Regions from separate parts of the Homo sapiens genome. Here region 1 is linked to region 2. The links come from fine-mapping of genetic effects on plasma protein levels. A gene starts in region 2. The other region holds a variant in brackets. All regions are shown on one strand. Distances are between the middles of the regions.

Region 1 (10,586 bases), 53 kb after region 2:
ACAGGTGCCCACCATCACACCCGGCTAATTTTTGTTTCGTATTTTTAGTACAGACAGGGTTTCACCATGTTGGCCAGGCTGATCTCAAACTCCTGACTTCAGGTGATCTGGCCGCATCGGCCTCCTAAAGTGCTGGAATGGATTACAGGTATGAACCACTGTTCCTGGCATATATGCTTTTGCTTCTAATTTATCAATAGGCCTCTTATGCCAGCACTACAGAGTAAAAAGCAACATGCAAAAGTCAGCTTTTTGTCTGTACACTTCCACGGAACAATCCAATCACTTCGTTGAAGGTGTCCAGCAAGCTCTTGTTGAGAAAATCCCTGTTGAAACTTCTCAGTGTCAAAAGCCCAGGTATCACAGGATAGAGTAGCAATCAGCAACCAAACCATGACTGTATGTGGAGATGACATATTCAGCCCCAGATAATGTATTCACATGAGTGAAGGGTGGAGTCATTGCCTGTCAGATTCTACAGTCATTTGGATTAGAGAGGGCAATACAGAGTTAGGTGCTACTGAATCCAACCACTGAGTCCTTCTCCCTTGAAGGCAACACCCACAGTGATAGTGTGGGCCACAGAGTAGAAACCCCACCATCAACACGACTCCAAATGTGATTTTGCCCGGGATGCAGGTGCTGTGTTGGGATGCAGGTGCTGTGTGGGGATGACCAGTGAAGGTAGGGGACACTGGAAGCACAGGGTGAGGGAGATGAACAGGACACAGCTGAGCCTGATTATTGGCCTTGACTGTGGGAGTATCTTGATGCTTCACAAACACCCCAGAGAGGACATTGTAGCACAGGCCCAAAGAGTGTTCATAAACCAGAGGGCCACCACTTTTGGAAGGCAGTGATGTGGCTTTCTGTTTGAGTCCTGATGCTCTGTTGACAGCATACACTGTTCTTCATCTGATTAGAAAAGCAATGCCGGCTGGGCGCAGTGGCTCACGCCTCTAATCCCAGCACTTTGGGAGGCTGAGGTGGGCAGATCACCTGAGGTCAGGAGTCCGAGACCAGCCTGACCCGCCTTGGACCTATTGGACTGAACAAACGGGAGCAAACACAGGAATAAAAGACAAGAGACAAAAGAGTATATTTGGAAGAAGGGGTTGGGGGGCACCTTGCCTCTAGTGGACAAGGGCCCCGAGCTTTACACAGCCCTCTGTATTTATTAGACAAAAGAGCGAGAAAAGCGGGGGGTGATTGTTGGGTAATTGTCAGTTGGCCATTTGGTTCACACCAGGCTTGTGAGACTGCATCCTTTGGACAATAGGCACTAATTTTCTCAGTAGATAACTTCAAGGAGCCCAGTGCCAGGGAGTGATGTCCCTCAGCAAACCTTTTGGTGGCAGGGCAGTGAGTTTGCCCACATCCTGCATTCATGATAAACAGTTTGCTGTTTGATCCCATATAGACTCCTGCGGAATGCTGAGTTGGTCACGTCCCACGGGCCTTCGGCTCCCTGCATATCCCCCTTTTTGTTTATGTATTAATTGAAAGAATGTAAGGCCAGGCTGAGCAGCTCTCATTGTCCGATTGGCGGTCCATCTGATTTTACAGAAAACATAGCATTAGAACTGTGTTGTGACTCTGTTAGGCCTTCTCTCTCTCTTTGCACCCAGGCTCAGCTGGCTCATGGCTCGTACTGGAGGGACCGGGCCCATGGTTGGCCACCCTGGGTTCCTCCCGTCTCCCGTTCATGGTCGCACACACCTTGAGGGCACCCAAACGGTGTGCCCATCTCCTGTAGAAACACAAGCATGCTCTCTTCCCCATGTCAGTAAATCCACCGGACTTTTCCATTGTCCTTCTTCCAGGGATTTCCATAACACTTTCAGATAAACTTTCCTCTTTTCCTCTAACACTTGTCAATGTCTTTCTGCTGGAGTCTTACCATCCGGACCAGGAGCCAAAAAAATTTAAAGTAAATAAAAATAATAAAAAGTTCTGATTGAGGTGGTAAGTGGCCTCCTATACCCCCTTTTTGTTTTTTCAACATGTGTTGTAATGTTTGATGTGCCTGCTCTATAATGCCTTGTCCTCTAGGATTATAAGGAATTTCTATTTTATGGGTTATAGCCCAAAGCTGTAAGAAATTTTGAAAAGCATGGCCAGTATAAGTGGGTCCATTGTTAGTTTTTAATTGTTTAGGTATTCCCATATGAGCAAATGATGACAGATGATGTCACCATACATGACCAGCTGTCTCACCTGTTTGGCATGTAGCATGCAGCATTTGAGAATAAGTGAAATAAATTAAGCAGTTCTGGGTCTAGTGTACTTTTAACTGTAGCAGTTTCTACGCGACTGGCTACATTTACAACATAAGCTGAATCACAGACAATGTTGATAGGATCTGAAGCTGTGAGCTGTAAAACCTGAATGACTGCAGTTAGCTCTGAATGTTGAGCTGAAACCCCAGAGGTCGTTATTGTTTTGGGACCTTTTTGGAATCACAAATACTGGAGAATTCCAGGGGCTAACTGACTTTTCTTTTTTTTTTTGAGACAGTCTCGCTCTGTCGCCCACGCTGGAGTAAAGCTCTGTCTCCCGGGTTCATGCCATTCTCCTGCCTCAGCCTCCCAAGTAGCTGGGACTACAGGCGCCTGCAACCATGCCCAGCTATTTTTTTTGTATTTTTAGTGGAGACGGGGTTTCACTGTGTTAGCCAGGATGGTCTCGATCTCCTGACCTCGTGATCCTCCCGCTTGGGCCTCCCAAAGTGCTGGGATTACAGGCGTGAGCCACCGCGCCCGGCCTGCTAACTGACTTTTCTATATGTCCTGTGTTCAATTGCTCTTTTACCAACAGATGAAGTTCATCTAGCTTCTTTTGTGATAGGGGCCATTGATCCACCCACACAGGTTTGTCACTGAGCCATTCTAATGGTAAGGCAGTGGGCAAAGGAGAAATATCAAATATCAATGACCCCCCCGTCAGAAATCCTTGTGTCCTAGCCCTTTTCTATCTGTTTTTCCAGTTACTGATATCGGGTTAGGATTTCATTGTAGAAATTTCCCTAAACCTTTTTCACTCTGATATCCCATGTTCTTCAACATTTTAAATCCTGGATTATCAAAGTTTTCATTTGTAAGTCTCCTATCCCATGCTGTAAGTCTCGACCCCATAAATTGATGGCTATATTTGCAACATAAGGCTGCAAAGTCCAGAGCAAGCTTAAAGTTGTAAAAGTTCTTTAATAAATAAACAGAGTAACCTGATAGGACGGGCGCGGTGGCCCACGCCTGTAATCCCAGCACTTTGGGAGGCCGAGGCGAGCGGATCACGAGGTCAGGAGATCCAGACCATCCTGGCTAACACAGCGAAACCCCGTCTCTACTAAAAATACAAAAAATTAGCCGGGCGCGGTGGCAGGTGCCTGTAGTCCCAGCTACTCGGGAGGCTGAGGCAGGAGAATGGCGTGAACCCGGGAGGCGGAGCTTGCAGTGAGTGGAGATCGCACCACTGCACTCCAGACTGAGCGACAGAGCGAGCCTCCGTCTCAAAAATAAATAAATAAATAAATAAACAGAGTAACCTTAGCTCTCTGAGTGCTAGTAAACTCAGATCGAGTGATTGAATTATGTGGTCTCTACTAGCCTGCTGCTTTTCCATGTTTACCAGACCCATCAGTAAACCGTGTTAAAGCCTTAGGTATGGGGGAGTGAAATACCGCTTCGAATTGCCTTTTACTTAAACGAATCCTGATGATATGAGGGTCATAACTTAGCATTTGGACTGCATTAATCATTAAGATTGCTAGCTGAAATAGTAATAAGTTTAAAAAGAAAATCTGAACGCGTCTCTAGAAGCAGAGACTTAAATGATATACTTTAACCATGTGCTTAAAACCACGGGCGGAATAGCTTAAATCTTGTAATTGAGTTTTTGGGCTGACCAAGTTTATGGACTTTAATCTGGCAAACAGTCTTGAAAACAGTGACTCACTGGCTGGGGAACTCAATTTAGGACTCTTTTAGCAAGTACAAATCACACTATCTGTAATCAGTGGGTAAGACAGTCATTCATGCATAAGTTTTCACTACACTTACAACTTTTCTTCACTTTCTGAGAAGGACACAACATTTTTACCTTCTAATTTGACAAATATCATTTAATTAGGTTTAAAGTTCTCCTTTAAAGGGTAATGTGTGGTTTTACATGCCTAGCTTTTAATTACTCATTAATGAATTCGTGGGCCCTCTGTAATCTCTTTCCCTTCAGAGGTTACTGTTTTACTTAAATTGAATTTGGAAAGCTACCTTAGGGGTAGGAGAGAGATAACAGTGGCCATTATTAGAAAAGAGGTTTTTCAAATTCTTACATTTTACTTAAATCTTAGCAGAGAATCATAGTCTGGGACGTACGTAACACATGAACTTTTGC[T/C]ATGGGCTGCTCACAGAGCCAGAGGGCTGCGGTGCAGGTCCTTGGCGGCGGCCGCATTGTACTTGCTCAGGTTTTGCCTGTGTCTGCGCCGCTCCCTCCCTCCTTTGCCGGGGGTGGGGCATGCTGCCAGCCTGGGCGGACCTTGTGGGCTTGGTCGCTGCCAGCTTTTCTGCTGCTGAACCTTCTATTCCGCCCACCGCTTGCTTGGTCGCGCGGTTTCGGCTTCTAATGCCTTTTTTCTTTCTTTTTTTTTGAGACGGAGTTTTTGCTCTTGTTGCCCAGGCTGGAGTGCAATGGCGCGATCTCGGCTCACCGCAACCTCCGCCTTCCAAGTTCAAGCGATTCTCCTGCCTCAGCCTCCCGAGTAGCTGGGATTACAGGCACTTGCCACCACGCCCGGCTAATTTTGTATTTTTAGTAGAGACAGGGTTTCTCCATGTTGCTCAGGCTGGTTTCGAACTCCCGACCTCAGGTGATCTGCCCACCTCAGGTGATCTGCCCGCCTCAGCCTCCCAAAGTGCTGGGATTACAGGCATGAGCCACCTCGCCCGGCCTTTCTTATCTTTTTACAGACATACACCTGCTTGCCTTGCCGATTTTGCATTACTGAGCAGGTTAAGAGCTCTCCTTCTAATGCTGCCTGCTCAAGACAGGGACTGATAGCTGTAGCGTATCCTCTGTCCTTTTTCCTATCTATTGGAGGAGGAGGCTTAGGTAAGACCTCTGTTTCCTCTTTGTTATTTTTGGCCCAGTGATATTGGGGCTGAGGGAAGAGAAGGTGATAAGGCAGGTGACGTTTTCTCCTCCTTCCTCTTTTTAGGCTCTTCTGTGTGTAAACTGAGCCAGGACTGCTCTAATTAAAGCCCATAACGTTAAAGATTTTACTGGGACCTGATGCCTTTGCACCTGATGTTGTTCAAGATTTCTCCCCACTCATTCCCAGAGTTCTAAGCCTAGCGTTCCTTCTTCCGGGAACCATGGGCTTATGTACTCCATTATTGACCACACTAGTTTTTAATTCCTTCAACAACTTAAATTCTAGTGGGGTGTGTTCATGAATAAACTGCTGTGGATTATTTGAATCGGGCCTTACGGAAATAGGAAAAGTGCAAGGTCCTAAGGGCTCTCCAGCTATGGCAGCAGAGCATAAAGTTGTTTGTTTTGGGGTCTCTATTTCTGCTACTGAAGGAGGCAGTACAGATGTTTCTGCGATTGGAGGAGGCGGTATAGGCCAATTTTTATCCTCCCTCACCTGTTTTTTATTTTCAGTTGGCGCTGTGGGTGGGACAACAGATTCTTTCAGATTTTTAGACTCAGCCTGCTGTCCCGCAGAATAATAAGGAGCTAATGGCAGAAGTACAGTATGAACTAAACTCCAAGTGGAGAAAACTGAAGAATCAACTTTAAAACCTTTTTGATGAGCCTGTTTTAATCCTTCTCCTGCTCTGTCCCAATTTTCCGCATCAAGAGTGCCTGCCTGTGGAAACCATGGGTGATGCGTGAATAACCATTTGTGGCTTCTGCAGGAGGTTAGTTAGTGCCTGCGAATTAACCTGAGCTCCAGACTGTCTCAACAGAAACTTAAGCAAGTGCACATAATGTTTTTCTTCAGTAGACAAATTCTTCCCCTTGTTAACCTGATTCAGAAAACTTCCCCTTCCCAGTACTTCTTTAAAGCACTGCCCCCAGTACTTCTTTAGGGCACTGACCTTACATACGCTATCGGCAGACTCATCCCGGAGTCCCCGTGCGTCTTGTCAATTTCAGTTCCTCTACTCCAGCAGACCTTCTTCGTTCACGTCCTCATAGTCCCGTGTTTGGACTGCCGCCTGTTCGAGTGCCACTTATAGAGCTTCCGATCCTGTCGCTGTTTGGGGTGCCACTGTGTAACCTGCACGGACCTAGGGGGACTGAACAAAGGGGGGCGAACGTGGGAATAAAAGACAAGAGACAAAAGAGTATATTTGGAAGAAGGGATGGGGGCAGCACCTTGCCTCTAGTGGACAAGGGCCCCGAGCTTTACACAGTCCTCCGTATTTATTAGGCCAAAGGGATAGTGAGAAAAGAGGGAGTGATTGTCGGGTAATTGTCAGTTGGCCGTTTGGTTCTGTTTGGTTCACAGCAGGCTTGTGAGACTGCATCCTTTGGACAATAGGCACTAATTTTCTCAGTAGATAACTTCAAGGAGCCCGGTGCCAGGGAGTGATGTCCCTCAGCAAACCTTTTGGTGGCAGGGCAGTGTGAGTTTGCCCACAACCTGCATTCATGATAAACAGTTTGCTGTTTGATCATATAGACTCCTGCGGAATGCTGAGTTTGTCGTGTCCCAGCGGCCTTTGGCTCCCTGCACTGACCATCATGGAGAAACCCCGCCTCTACTAAAAATACAAAATTAGCCAGGTGTGGTTGCGCATACCTGTAATCCCCGCTACTTGGGAGGCTGAGACAGGAGAATCGCTTGAACTCTGGAGGTGGAGGTTGCGGTGAGCTGTGATCACGCCATTGCACTCCAGCCTGGGCAAAAGCGAAATTCTGTCTCCAAAAAAAAAAAAAAAAAAAAAAAAAAAAAAGAAAGAAAGAAAGAAAAGAAAAGAAAAAAGAAAAGCAACGCTGCAGTTTGTAAGTTTCAACAATTTAGAATTAAAAGTTATTTTGGCAATCTAGGACTCATTCTTCATTCTGGCTGCAGACAGAGCTATGGATAGGGAATGTCACACATATTTTTAAGGTTATGTTGTCTTTTATGTTAAATGGATAACATTTCCACTTTGCGTTTCCATATGCAATGGAAGGCCAAGGCAGCAGAATCCCTTGAGGCCAAGACTTCAAGACCAGCCGGGCAATATAGTCAGACTGTGTCTCTACAAAATATTTTTTAAATTGTTTATATAATTTATGAGATTCCAGTGTCATGCTGTCAGCTAATATTAGGAAATTAGTAGGTGTGACTATGGTATTCTGGTTATGAGAAATGCTTCAATTTATTTTATTTTATTTTTTTTTTGAGACGGAGTTTCGCTCTTGTTGCCCAGGCTGGAGTGCAGTGGTGTGATCTCAGCTCACTGCAACCTCCGCCTCCTGGGTTCAAACGATTCTCCTGCCACAGCCTCTCAAGTAGCTGGGATTACAGGCATGCGCCACCAGGCGCAGCTAATTTTTGTAGTTTTAGTAGAGACGGGTTTCACCGTGTTGGCCAGGATGATCTCCATCTCTTGACCTCGTGATCCGCTCGCCTCAGCTTCCCAAAGCGCTGGGATTACAGGCATGAGCCACCGCGCCCAGCCTTTTTTTTCTTTTCTTTTCTTTTTTTTTTTTTTTTTGAGACGGAGTCTTGCTCTGTCGCCCAGGCTGGAGTGCAGTGACGCGATATCCGCTTACTGCAAGCTCCGCCTCCCGGGTTCACGCCATTCTCCTGCCTCAGCATCCCGAGTAGCTGGGACTACAGGCGCCCGCCACCACGCCCGGCTAATTTTTTGTATTTTTAGTAGAGACGGGGTTTCACCGTGTTAGCCAGGATGGTCTCGATCTCCAGACCTCGTGATCTGCCCCCCTCGGCCTCCCAAAGTGCTGGGATTACTTACATGCTTGAGCCACCGCGCCCGGCTTTTTTTTTTTTAACAGTCTCGCTCTGTCACCCAGGCTGGAGTGCAGTGGCGTGATTTCGGCTCACTGCAACCTCCGCCTACCAGATTCAAGCGATTCTCGTGCCTCAGTCTCCTGAGTAGCTGGAATTATAGGCGTGTGCCACCACTCCTGACTAATTTTTGAATTTTTGGTAGAGATGAGGTTTCACCATGTTGGCCAGGCTGGTCTCAAATTCCAGACCCCATGTGATCCGCCTGCTGTGGCCTCCCAAAGTGCTGGGATTACAGGTATGAGCCACTGTGCCCAGCCTCAGAAGTGCTTCCGTTCTTGAGATGTGAAAATTGCCTTTTTAGATATACGTTAAAAAAAAAAAAATAGAGATGGAGCCTTAGTATGTTGACCAGGCCGGTCTGGAACTCCTGGCATTAAGCGATCATCCCATCTAGGCCCCCCATAGTGCTAGGATTACAGGCATGAGTAACCACACCTGAGATGTTTTATATTTGCAGTTTTTAATAAAGCAAAGTCAAAAAGAACAATTTTTAGGATAAATGACCTTAGGTTGAAAACATTTTTATTTTCAAGGAAAAATTTGTGAATTCATTCCTGTACCAAAAAATTACATCCAGTTCATTTACTACAGCATGAAATTTTATTGAAAAGAACTTAATAATTTCAAATGTGAGCAGAGGTTATTTTATTCTTTCCTTTCACTTACTGTCTGTCTCCCTGAGTTTCTTTCTTTTTTTTTTTTTTTTTTTTGAGACAGAGTTTCACTCTTGTTGCCCAGGTTGGAGTACAATGGCGTGATCTTGGCTGACTGCAGTCTCTGCCTCCTGGGTTCAAGCAATTTTCCTGCCTCAGCCTCCCGAGTAGCTGGGATTACAGGCATGCACCACCATGCCCGGCTAATTTTGTATTTTTAGTAGAGACGGGGTTTCTCCATATTGAGGCTGGTCTCGAACTCCTGACCTCAGGTGATCCTCCCGCCTCAGCCTCCCAAAGTGCTGGGATTACAGGCGTGAGCCATCACACCTGGCTGGATCTTTTACCTACCATATAGGTAAAACCATGGTCAAAAGTGATACAGAAGCAGGAGGAGCAAGATGGCCAAATAGAACCCTCCAGTGATTGTTCCCCCAACAAGAACACCAAATTGAACAGCTATCCACACAAAAAGTAACTTAGGCTGGGCGCAGTGGCTCACACCGGTAATCCCAGCAGTTTGGGAGGCTGAGGCAGGCAAATCACGAGGTCAGGAGTTCAAGACCAGCTTGGCCAATATGGTGAAACACCGTCTCTAGTAAAAAATACAAAATTAGCTGGGCATGGTGGTGTGCACCTGTAATCCCAGCTACTCAGGAGGCTGAGGCAGGAGGATCGCTTGAACCCGGGAGGTGGAGGTTGCAGTGAGCCGAGATCGTGCCACTGCACTCCAGCCTGGGTGACAGAGTGAGACTCTGTATCAAAAAAGAGAAGAAGAAGGAGACGGAGAAGGAGAAGAAGAAGAAGAAGAAAGGAGAAGAAAGAGGAGAAGAAGAAGAAGAACCAAACATCAGCTGTGCAATCACAGTGCCTGGTCTTATATTAAGTAAAGAGGCACGGAAGAGGGTGGGAAAGCAGCCTTGAATTGCCTATGCCACCACTTTCCCATCCTCTCGCAGAGGCCAAATGGCATAGAGAGTGAATCTGTAAGCTTGGGAGAGGGAGAGCGCAGTGATTGTGGCACTTTGCATTGGAACTCAGTGCTGCCCTGTCATTAGCAGAAAGCAATATGGGGCAGAACTCAGCCAGTGCCCATGGAGGGAGCGTTTAGATCAGCCTTAGCCAGAGTTGAATTGTCCATCCCAATTGCCAGAACCTGAGTTCTGGCAAGCCCTGTCACCGTGGGCTAAAATGTTCTGGTGTCCTGAAGAAACTTGAAAGGTAGTCAGGATCACAAGGACTGCAATTCCTGTGTAAGTCTTGGTGTTGGGTGGGCTTGGACCCAGCGGACTTGGTGTGCACATGACCTAGTGAGACACTAGCTGGGGTGGCAAAGGGAATACTTGTGCCACCACTCTCCTGACCCCAGGCAGTACAGCCAGCAGCTCAGGGAGAGACTACTTCCTTCTACTTGAGAAGAAAGGGGAGAGTAAAGAGGACTTATATTGCAACTTGGATGCAAGCTCAGCAACAGTATAATAGGGCACCAGGCAGAGGCGTGAGGCCTCTATTCCAGGCCCTAGCTCCTGGACATTTCTAGATACACCCTGGGCCAGAAGGGAACCTACTGCCTTGAAAAGAAGGACCCAGTCCTGGCAGAATTCATCACCTTCTGAACCCCTGGGCCCTGAGTGATCAGCAGGGGTAGCCAGGCTGTACTTGTATGGGCCTTGGGTAAGACTTAGAGCTGTACTGGCTTCAGGTGTGACCCAGCACCTTTCTACCTGTGGTGGCTATGGGGAGAGATTCCTGCTGCTGGAGGAAAGGAGAGGGAAGAATAGGCCAGGCGCAGTAGCTCATGCCTGTAATCCCAGCACTTTCAGAGGCTGAGCCCAGGAGTTCAAGACAACATGAAAAAATCCCATCTCTACAAAAAATACAAAAGATTAGCCAGGTGTGGTGGT
Region 2 (10,498 bases):
AAACCCCCTCTCTACAAAAAATACAAAAATTGGCTGGGTGCAGTGGCTCACGCCTGTAACCCCAGCACTTTGAGAGGCCGAGGTGGGTGGATCACGAGGTCAGGAGATCGAGACCATCCTGGTCAACATGGTGAAACCCCGTCTCTACTAAAAATACAAAATTAGCTGGGCATGGTGGCGCACTTACCTGTAGTCCCAGCTACTCGGGAGGCTGAGGCAGGAGAATCAATTGAACCTGGGAGGTGGAGGTTGCAGTGAGCCAAGATCAGGCCACTACACTCCAGCCTGGCGACAGAGCAAGACTCTGTCTCACGGTGAAACCCCGTCTCTACTAAAAAAAAAAAAAAAAAAAAAATTAGCCGGGCGTGGTGGCGGGCGCCTGTAGTCCCAGCTACTCGGAGAGGCTGAGGCAGGAGAATGGCGTGAACCCGGGAGGCGGAGCTTGCAGTGAGCCGAGGCTGCGCCACTGTACTCCAGCCTGGGTGACAGAGCGAGACTCCGTCTCAAAAAAAAAAAAAAAAAAAAAAAAAAAAAAAATTAGCCAGGTGTGGTGGTGTGTGCTTGTAGTCCCAGCTGTTCAGGAGGCTTAGGTGGGAGGGAGGATTGCTTGAGCCCCGGAGACGGAAGTTGCAGTGAGCTGTGATCACACTACTGTACTCCAGCCTGACAGCCTGGGCAACAGAGTGAGACCCTGTCTAAAAAACAGAAAAGTAAAGAAAAAAATAAAATAATTAATTAAGATGGCTGAGTGCTGGCTGGTGTTGTCTCCTCAGCAAGACAGAAGCTCCCTGAGGGCCAGCGCCCACCCTGATTTATTCCTCCTAGTGTCCTTGGGTCCCCAGCTGCCTGGCACAGAGCTTTGGTCCTTGGTGCTCGGTAGAAGTGTCTGGCTGATGTAGAGGAGGGAGCCTGAGTTACAATCCCCCCTCCCCTGCCACTCAGTCTTCGTGTGACATTGGATGTGTCACTTCTTCTTTCTGTGCTCTGGGCCATGAGAACGGGGTCCTTGGGCTATGATGGTGACCTCTGATTCAGACTCCTGCCTGTCTGGTGCCTCTGAGTCAGTGAGAAGAGCGCGGCTGTGACCTCCCTAGACTGTTGTGGTTAAGATTGAGGGACTGCCACTTCCTAGAAATTACCTTGGTCACAGTGGTTAAGCCGTCCAATCTAAGATAAATATTGTACCAAAAAAAATTAAAAAATAAAAACCCACAAAAACACGTCTGAGCTTCTGTAATAGCCTCTGAGAAGCAAGGATGATTCTGGCCCCTGCCTCATGGGCCAGGATCAGAAGTGACGGTAAATGGCAGCTGGAACAAACTCAGGATTACATTTTGGGGATTTGTTTGTTTGCTTGAGACAGAGTCTTGCTCTGTTGCCCAGGCTGGAGTGCAGTGGTACGACCTCGGCCCACTGCAACCTCCACCTCCTGGGTTCAAGTGATTCTCCTGTCTCAGCCTCCTGAGTAGCTGGAATTACAGGCGCCCGCCACAATGCCAGCTAATTTTTGTATTTTTAATGGAGACAGCGTTTTGCCATGTTGATCAGGCTGGTCTCGAACTCCTGATCTCAAGTGATCTGCCCGCCTCAGCCTCCCAAAGTGTTGGGATTACAGGTGTGAGCCACCACCCCTGGCCAGGATTGCATTTTGGAAAGATCACTGCTTAATTATAACAGTTGGCCAGACATGATGGCTCACACCTGTAATCCTGCATTTTGGGAGGCTAAGGAGGAAGAATCACTTGAGGTCAGGAGTTTGAGACCAGCCTAGGCAACATAGCAAGACCCCATCTCTACAAAACACACACACACAAAATTAACCAAGAGTGGTGGGGTGAAGCTGTGGTCCCAGCCACTCAGGAGGCAGAGGCAGGAGGATCCCTTGAGCTCAGGAGGTGGAAACTGCAGTGAGCTATGATTACACCATTGCACTCCAGCCTGGGCAACAGAGTGAGACACTGTTTCAAAAAAAACCAAAAAATTGTAACAGTAACACATACACCTTGTAACAAATTCAACAGTATTGACATCTATAAAGTAGCAAATTATACCAAGATACACACACACACACACACACACACACACACACACACGCGCGCGCGCAAAGTAACAAATAAGCCGGAGCAGTAGCTCATGCCTGTAATCTCAGCACTTTGGGAGGCCTAGGCGGGTGGATCACCTGAGGTCGGGAATTCAAGATCAGCCTGACCAACATGGAGAAACCCTGTCTCTACTAAAAAATACAAAATTAACCAGGCGTGGTGGCGCATGCCTGTAATCCCAGCTACTCAGGAGGCTGAGGCAGGAGAATCGCTTGAATCTGGGAGGCAGAGGTTGCTGTGAGCTGAGATCACGTCACTGCACTCCAGCCTGGACAGCAAGAGGGAAACTTCTTCTCAAAAAAAAAAAAATAAGTAAAATAACAAATGAAAGGTGACAATTTCACCAAGTGCCTCTCCCCAGAAGTAACCTCAGTTACTTTTTTTTTTTTTTGAGATAGTCTCCCAAACTGGAGTGCAGTGGCGTGATCACAGCTCACTGCAGCCTCCACTTCCCAGACAAGAACGATTCTCATGCCTCAGCCTCCCAAATAGCTGGGATTATAGGCATGCATCACCAGGCCTGACTCATTCTTTTGTATTTTTTAGTAGAGGTGGGTTTTTGCCATATTGGCCAGGCTGGTCTTGAACTCCTGTCCTCAAGTGATCTGCCTGCCCCTACCTACCAAAGTGCTGGGATTACAGGCATGAGCCACTGCACTCAGCCCTGTTTACATTTTGTCCAGATTCATTTCACTCCGCTAGGCAGGCAGCTGGAGCCAAACAACTGGGTCCCTGCCGTGTAGCAGTTGCAAGTGGCGGTTGAGGGTGGGCCAAAGGAGGGGTTCCTGTGCCTTGCCTAGCGCTAATGGCCTGGGTTGCCTGGGGGTGGGTGTTACTTAACTCTCCCTCAGAGGGGAACTGGGCTCCCCTGCAACTGTCACATCAGGTCTAGCACTCTGCTTTCAGTATAAGAAAAACAGGCCCTGAGATTTTTTTTTTTTTTTTTTTCCCCTGAAACGGAGTCTCATTCTGTTTCCCAGGCTGGATTGCAGTGGTGTGATCTCGGCTCACTGCAACCTCTGCCTCCTGGGTTCAAGCGATTCTCCTGCATCAGCCTCAGTAGCTGGGATTACAGGCACGTGCCACCATACCCAGCTAATTTTTTGTATTTTTAGTAGGGATGGGGTTTCACCATGTTGGCCAGGCTGGTCTCCAACTCCTGACCTCAAGTGATCTGCCTGCCTCAGCCTCTCAAAGTGCTGGGATTACAGGTGTGAGCCACTGTGCCCAGCCCTGAGATAATTCTCCTTCTAGAAGTTTTCTTACACATTACTTTCACAGCATTGGTCCAGGGACCACCACTGCAGCCTTGTTGGTAAGAGGGAAACAATTATTTATTTATTTATGTATTTTGAGAAAGAGTCTCGCTCTGTTGCTCAGTCTGGAGTGCAGTGGCGTCATATCGGCTCACTGCAACCTCCGCCTCCCGGGTTCAAGCAATTCTCTGCCTCAGCCTCCCAAGTAGCTGGGACTACAAGCACACGCCACCATGCCCAGCTAATTTTTGTATTTTTAGTAGAGACGGGGTTTCACTATATTGGTCAGGCTGGTCTCAAACTCCTGACCTCAGGTGATCCACCTGCCTCGGCCTCTGAAAGTGTTGGGATTACAGGTGTGAGCCACCATGCCTGGCCTAGAAGGAAAGATTTAAAAAGACCACGGCTGGGTGCGGTGGCTCACGCCTGTAATCCCAGCACTTTGAGAGGCCGAGGTGGGTGGATCATGAGGTCAGGAGTTCAAGACCAGCTTGGCAAAGATGGCGAAACCCCATCTCTACTAGAAATACAAAAATTAGCTGGGCATGGTGGCGTGTGCTTGTAGTCCCAGCTACTTGGGAGGCTGAGGCAGAGAATTGCTTGAACCCGGGAGGCGGAGGTTGCAGTGAGCCAAGATCGTGCCACTGCACTCCAGCCTGGCTGATGGAGTGAGACTCCATCTCAAAAAAAAAACCTCAATGAGGCTGAGCACTTTGGCACTTTGGCTCACGCCTGCAATCCCAGCACTTTGGGAGGTTGAGGCAGGAGGATCACCTGACCCTGTGAATTTGAGGCTGCAGTGAGCTATGATCCTGCCATTGCACTCTAGTCTGAGTGACAGAGCAAGATTCTGTCTCTCAAAACAACCCCCAAAACCAATAAAATCCTGCAAGGGGCACTAGCAAGGAGCCAGTGACATAAGGCAGAAGCTTCGTGGCTGTCAAAAAGAAGTGCGATCTTTTTCCTTGTTCCTGGGAATCCTGCAAACATGTCTGCCCCATAGGTAATGCGTAGACAAGGTCATTTGTTATGACATTGAGGATTGCAAAATTGTTCGAAGTGTTACAGGAAAGGGGTCTCGATCCAGACCCCAAGAGAGCATTCTTGGATCTTATGCAAGAAACAATTCAGGACTGGGCACAGTGGCTCATGCCTGTAATCCCAGCACTTTGGGAGGCCAAGGCAGGTGAATCACCTGAGGTCAGGAGTTCAAGACCAGCCTGACCAACATGGTGAAATGCCGTCTCTACTAAAAATACAAAATTAGCCAGGCATGGTGGTGGGGGCCTGTAATCCCAGCTACCTGGGAGGCTGAGGCAGGAGAATTGCTTAATCGGTTGAACCCAGGAGATGGAGGTTGCAGTGAGCCAACATTACACCCATGTACTCCAGCCTGGGTGACAGAGTGAGACTCCATCTCAAAAAAGAAAAAAAAAAAAGTGGAGTGCAGTAACGGGAATGTGTGCAGAACTATGTGTATATTGTGTTGCTTTTGGTGTAAAAAATGGGAATGTGTTTGCAGTGGCATGCCCCTGTAATCTCATCTACTCGGGAGGCTGAGATGGATCACTTGAGCCCAGGAGCTCAAGACCAGCCTGGGCAACATAGCAAAACTCTGTCTCTGAAAAACAGTCTGGAAGCAATAGCTCATGCCTGTAATCCCAACACTTTCGGAGGCTGAGGCAGGAGGATTGCTTGAGCCCAGGAGTACAAGACCGGTTTGGGCAACAGAACAAGACTCCCATCTCTACAAAAAAAAAAAATCTAAAAATTAGTTAGGAGTGGTGGTGCGTGCCTGTAGTCCTAGCTACTTGAGAGGCTAGGGTGGGAGGATTTCTTGAGCCCAGGAGTTTGAGGCTGCAGGGAGCTATGATTGCACCACTGCACTCCAGCCTGGACAATATAGCAAGACCCCTCTCCCTAAAGAAATAATAGGCCGGGCACGGCGGCTCACGCCTGTAATCCCAACACTTTGGGAGGCTGAGGCGGGCAGGTCATGAGGTCAGGAGATTGGGACCATCCTGGCCAACATGGTGAAACCCCATCTCTACTAAAAATACAAAAATTGCCAGGCGCGGTGGCTCACTCCTGTAATCCCAGCACTTTGGGAGGCTGAGGCAGGCGGATCACGAGGTCAGGAGATTGAGACCATCCTGGCTAACACGATGAAACCCCATCTCTATTTAAAAATACAAAAAACGAGCCGGGTGTGGTGGCAGACGCCTGTAATCCCAGCTACTTGGGAGGCTGAGGCAGGAGAATGGTGTGAACCCGGGAGGCAGAGCTTGCAGTGAGCCGAGATCACGCCGCTGCACTCCAGCCTGGGCGACAGAGCAAGACTCCATCTCAAAAAAAAAAAAAAAAAAAAAAAAAATTAGCTGGGCGTGGTGGCGCGTGCCTATAATCCCAGCTACTCAGGAGGCTGAGCCAGGAGAATTGCTTGAATCTGGGAGTTGGAGGTTTCAGCGAGCCGAGCTCACGCCACTGCACTCCAGCCTGGTGACAGAGTGAGACTCCATCTCAAAAAAAAAAAAAAAGAAAAAAAAAAGAAAATAATAAAGGGAATGTTTTGATTATGGAGGCATAGACTATATAGAGAAAGAAAATGATTAATATTAGTTGCCCCTGGGGTGGAGGAAGACTTGCTTTATGTTGTACCCTTCTTTCTGCTTGGATTTTATTGAATTAATTTTTTTTTTGAGACAGAGTCTTGCTCTATCACCCAGGCTGGAGTGCAGTGGCACAATCTCAGCTCACTGCAATCTCCGCCCTCACCTCTCCACCCCCTTTACCCGCAAACCCCCTAGGCTCAAGTGATTCTCTCGCCTCAGCCTCCCAAGTAGCTGGGATTACAGTCATGTGTCACCACGCCTAGATAAGTTTTGTATTTTTAGTAGAGATGGGGTTTCACCATGATGGCCAGGCTGGTCTTGAACTTCTGACCTCAAGTGATCCGACCACCTAGGCCTTGCAAAGTGCTGGCATTACAGGTGTGAGCCATCGTGCCTGGCCTATTTTATTTACTTATTTTTTTTGAGACAGATTCTTGCTCTGTCACCCAGGCTGGAGTACAGTGGCACAATCTCAGCTCATTGCAACCTCCGCCTCCTGGGTTCAAGCAATTCTCCTGCCTCAGCCTCCTGAGTAGCTAGGACCATAGGCTCCTGCCACCACAACTGGCCAATTTTTTTTTTTCAGGCAGAGTTTAACTCTTGTTGCCCAGGCTGGAGTGCAGTGGCGCAATCTTGACTCACTGCAGCCTCCACCTCCCAGATGCAAGTGATTCTCCTGCCTCAGACTCCCAAGTAGCTGGGATTACAGGCACTCGCCAGCAAGCCTGACTAACTTTTTGTATTTTTAGTGGACATGGGGTTTCACTATGCTGGCCAGGCTGATCTTGAACTCCTGACCTCAAATAATCCACCCGCTTTGGCCTCCCAAAGTGCTGGGATTACAGATGTGAACCACTGAGCCTGGCCTCTGCTTGGATTTTATTTTTTTTTTATTTTTTATTTTTTTGAGATGGAGTCTCGCTCTTTCACCCAGGCAGGAGTGCAGTGGCGCTATCTTGGCTCACTGCAAGCTCCGCCTCCTGGGTTCACACTATTCTCCTGCCTCAGCCTCCCAAGTAGCTGGGACTACAGGCACCCGCCGCCACGCCTGGCTAATTTTTTTGTAGTTTTAGTAGAGACGGGGTTTCACCATGTTAGTCAGGATGGTCTCGATCTCCTGACCTCGTGATCCGCCCACCTCGGCCTCCCAAAGTGCTGGGATTACAGGTGTGAGCCACCGTGCCTGGCCGGGTTTTATAATCACATCCATGGATAAGGCAACTTGGTCATGGATGGGGTAAGAGATGGAGGCAAGGAACAGCAGCTCAGGGGAGCCCAGCCACTCTAACCAGGAGAACATAACACACCAGTGGCACTGGTTCAGCCTTGGCAACTATTCTTTTATTGAACATCAGTAACAGAAAGATGCTTGATTTAGGAGGAAGCTTTCCCTCCCTCCCTCCCCCATTGCACCCCGGAACTCAGCAAAGGTGAGCCAGCCACAGAGCATAACACTGTGGCTGGGACACATGTCCATGTGTGTTTCACATACGTGGGCATCTGTGCCACAAGGGTCATGTGGCACCACAGTTCATCAGCTGTGTTTCCCCTTCCTGCCCTGCTGCAGCGCCACAGGTTGGAGGAAAAGCCTGCCTGTGAGCAGGGTCCCGGCAGGGCCCACCCACCCAACAGTGGAGATCGGGCCTCAGAGCTGGGCAGTCATGGGAGTTCAGGGCCTGGCTCGCCTCGGCAGCCTGGTCTTAAAGAGGGACTTGCCCGAGGCCTCGATGTAAGTGACAGTCATCTCTTTGGAGCTGATCTCCACATAGGCAAAGCCACCCAGTGAGTCTTCAGTCCCATAGTGGAAGCGCAGATAGCCGTTGGGGACCTTGCGCTGGTGCCGCTTTGAGGGGTCCATGAAATTCCCAGCCCCACTCAGCACGTAGCCCACGCCATTCTCATCTTGCAGGTACTGAGGATGGAGGACAAGGGGTCAGTGGAGACCCAGCTTTGAGCAGAGCCCTGCCTAAGGTCCAGGGCTCGATCTGGCCCTAACCACAGAGTCACCTTGAGGTATGTAACCCCTCCTGGCTTCAATTTCCTGACTTTTAGGAGTGTATTAATCCTATTTCATAGGTAGAGCACTTAGTAAGAAATTGGTGGCCAGGTGTGGTGGCTCATGCCTGTAATCCCAGCACTTTGGGAGGCTGAGGGGGTGGATTGCTTGAGCCCAGGAATTTGAGACCAGCCTGGGCAACATAGTGAGACCTTGCCTCTACAAAAAAAATGCGCAAGGGCCAGGTGCAGTGGCTCATGCCTATAATCCCAGCACTTTGGGAGGCCGAGGCGGGCAGATCACTTGAGGTCAGAAGTTCGAGATCAGCCTGGCCAACATGGTGAAACCCCGTCTCTACTAAAATATAAAAATTAGCAAGGTTTGGTGGCCCATGCTTGTAATCCCAGCTACTTGGGAGGCTGAGACAGGAGAATTGCTTGAACCCAGGAGGCGGAGGTTGCAGTGAGTTGAGATCGTGCCACTGCACTCCCTCTCAAAAAAAAAAAAAAAAGCAAAAATTAGCTGCATGTGGTGGCCCATGCCTGTAGTGTCAGCTACTCTGGAGGCTGAAGTGGGAGGTTCACCTGAGCCCGGGAGATTGAAGCTGCAGTAAGCCCCGATTGCACCACTGCACTCCAGCCTGGGTGAAAAACAATGAAACCTTGTCTCCAAAAAAAAAAAAAAAAAAGAGCTTAAAAAAGAAAGAAAGAAAGAAATTGGCAATTCGAAGATATTATTCTGGCTTTGGAGTGTTTTCCTGGTTAGACAGCAAGATTTGAGGGACAGTCTAGACATTCTGAAGGCCACAGGAGACCCTCAAACAGCAGGAGGACCCCAGCCATGTGGACATCAGCTGGGATGGGGACCCCCCTCACCCAGCTCCCACCCCACCCACAGGGCCCTCACCTGCAGATTGTGATCGTGGCCGCACAGGTAGGCAGTGACCCCGTATGTGGCCAGCAGTGGCCGTAGCTGCTTGACCAGGCAGTGGGTAGGCCCGTGCTCGGCTATGGACCACACGGGGTAGTGGCCAGCCACCAGCACGTAGTCCTCCCTGGCCGCCGCCAGCTGTTTCTTGAGCCAGGACAGCTGTGTGCGGGCCAGCTTCACGTCTCGGGGCCTCTCAGGCTGCTGGCTGAGGAAGTCATCTGAGTTGCCACATAGTGTCACTGTGTCCAGCATAAAAATGGCCACAGACACATTGGTCTGTGGGATCTTGAAGTGCAGGCGGTAGAAAGGGCTGGGGAAGTTCCTGTGGAGGGGATAGAGGTCGTGGGTGCACATCTTGGGCGCAGAAGTCCCAGGGTCAGCTCAAGCCACAGGGCCCCTGTGTCCCTGCTATGTGAGGATCTCGGAAGGCAGGGCTGAGGGTGGCTCACCAGCGCTTGGAGATCTTAGAGTATGCAATCTGGGCAGAGACATTGCCAAGGTGGTCATGGTTTCCGGCTAGCACGTACCAGGGCACTTTGCGAAGGGAGCGGTCAGAGAATACGTCCTCAAAGGTCTCCTGTAGCAAACAGATAGGGCAGGCCTCTTCCCTGGGGTCAGTGGCTATGCCGATCCTCCCACCAAGTCAGGATAAGGGAGACACTGAATGCTCCCGGCGCCCAAAGGTGCCCCATCACCTTCCCTCTGCCCTCACCAAAGGAAGGTCACTAGGTAAGGCGGCTTCTCCCCACTGCCCGCCCCCACCTCCTGCCCCACTCTGTTGGGCACAGACCTGGAACCTCTTGTCATTGATGTCTTGCACACCAGTGAAGTAAAAATTGTCCCCTAGAGACAGGATGAAGTCTGCACCCAGGATCTGCACAGTCCGAGCGATCTCCTTGGCATTGGCCATTTCCCGGGCCGTGTGGAATGGGGCATTGGGGACCCCTCCCCAGTCACCCACGGCTACAAAGCGCAGGGCAGGGGTGGCACCATCAGCCAGGGAGGGTAGCAACAAGGCTTGCAGGATGAGCAGCGCCGTCCACATGTCCATCTGGGAGAAGAGAGACAAGCATAGGTGGCCCGGGCTGTGACAAGGGCAGGGAGGCCTTGAGACCCCCGCCTGCCCTGAGATAGAGGGAGACTGCTTGCTGCAGGCTGCCCCTGCGGGAACCCCTTGGTGCCCTAATTCTCAGGACACACAAGCTGCACAAGGCTGCACAAGCTGGCTTAGGGAAGGGGGGCGCGGTCTGTGAGAGGGCGAGCTGTACCAAGATGGCCCTGCAGGCCCATTTCACCCTCCTTCCACCTAGCCTGCCCAGCACTCACCCAGGGGGAGACACAGGCCAGTCACCGGAGGCTCTGAGAGGCTGGTGGGCTCTAGAGTAGAACTGCCGGTCCCTGAGCCTTTATTCCCTGAGGAGGAAGTGGATCATTAGTGAGGATGATGCAGTTTCTCCGAGGGCTGTCCCGGGAGCCCTCCCCTTGGGTCATGTGAGCCCTGGACTTCCCTGGAGCAGGACACGGGATTGGGGTGGGGGTGGGAGGATCTGGGCACACGTGTGCAGCAGCCTCGGCCCACACAGCCTCCGGGTGGACCTGCAG

Direction of the effects. Alleles are on the strand shown, and positions count from the first base shown. The strength of an association depends on the size of the effect and on how common the allele is.
For the plasma level of the protein whose gene starts at base 10,275 in region 2, allele C in region 1 goes with a lower level than allele T (strong association).

The links. PIP is the chance, under the fine-mapping model, that this variant and not a neighbour inherited with it causes the effect. Protein levels are from antibody-based Olink assays in UK Biobank. Linkage for the fine-mapping came from a reference panel and not from the study's own genotypes, which makes the PIPs less certain.
Region 1: its variant is fine-mapped to the plasma level of the ACP5 protein (UK Biobank, PIP above 0.99).

Annotation. Positions count from the first base shown.
Region 1 is chr19:11,620,306-11,630,891 of GRCh38, forward strand. It overlaps the pseudogene VN2R12P. Among named protein-coding and RNA genes, the nearest start is that of ZNF627, 28 kb to the left of the region's middle. RefSeq lists an enhancer at 3,333-3,833. The variant T/C (reference allele first, on the strand shown) is at 4,393.
Region 2 is chr19:11,567,371-11,577,868 of GRCh38, forward strand. It overlaps ACP5 (acid phosphatase 5, tartrate resistant), which reads right to left and starts at 10,275. Exons shown (of 5, transcript NM_001611.5): 1 at 10,223-10,275; 2 at 9,687-9,947; 3 at 9,346-9,473; 4 at 8,873-9,218; 5 at 7,290-7,882. The coding sequence starts at 9,947. The coding sequence ends at 7,640. It overlaps LOC124904638 (a long non-coding RNA gene), which reads left to right and starts at 7,879. Exons shown (of 2, transcript XR_007067140.1): 1 at 7,879-7,983. RefSeq lists a silencer at 503-552 and enhancers at 963-1,052, 9,761-10,373, 10,374-10,498, 10,455-10,498.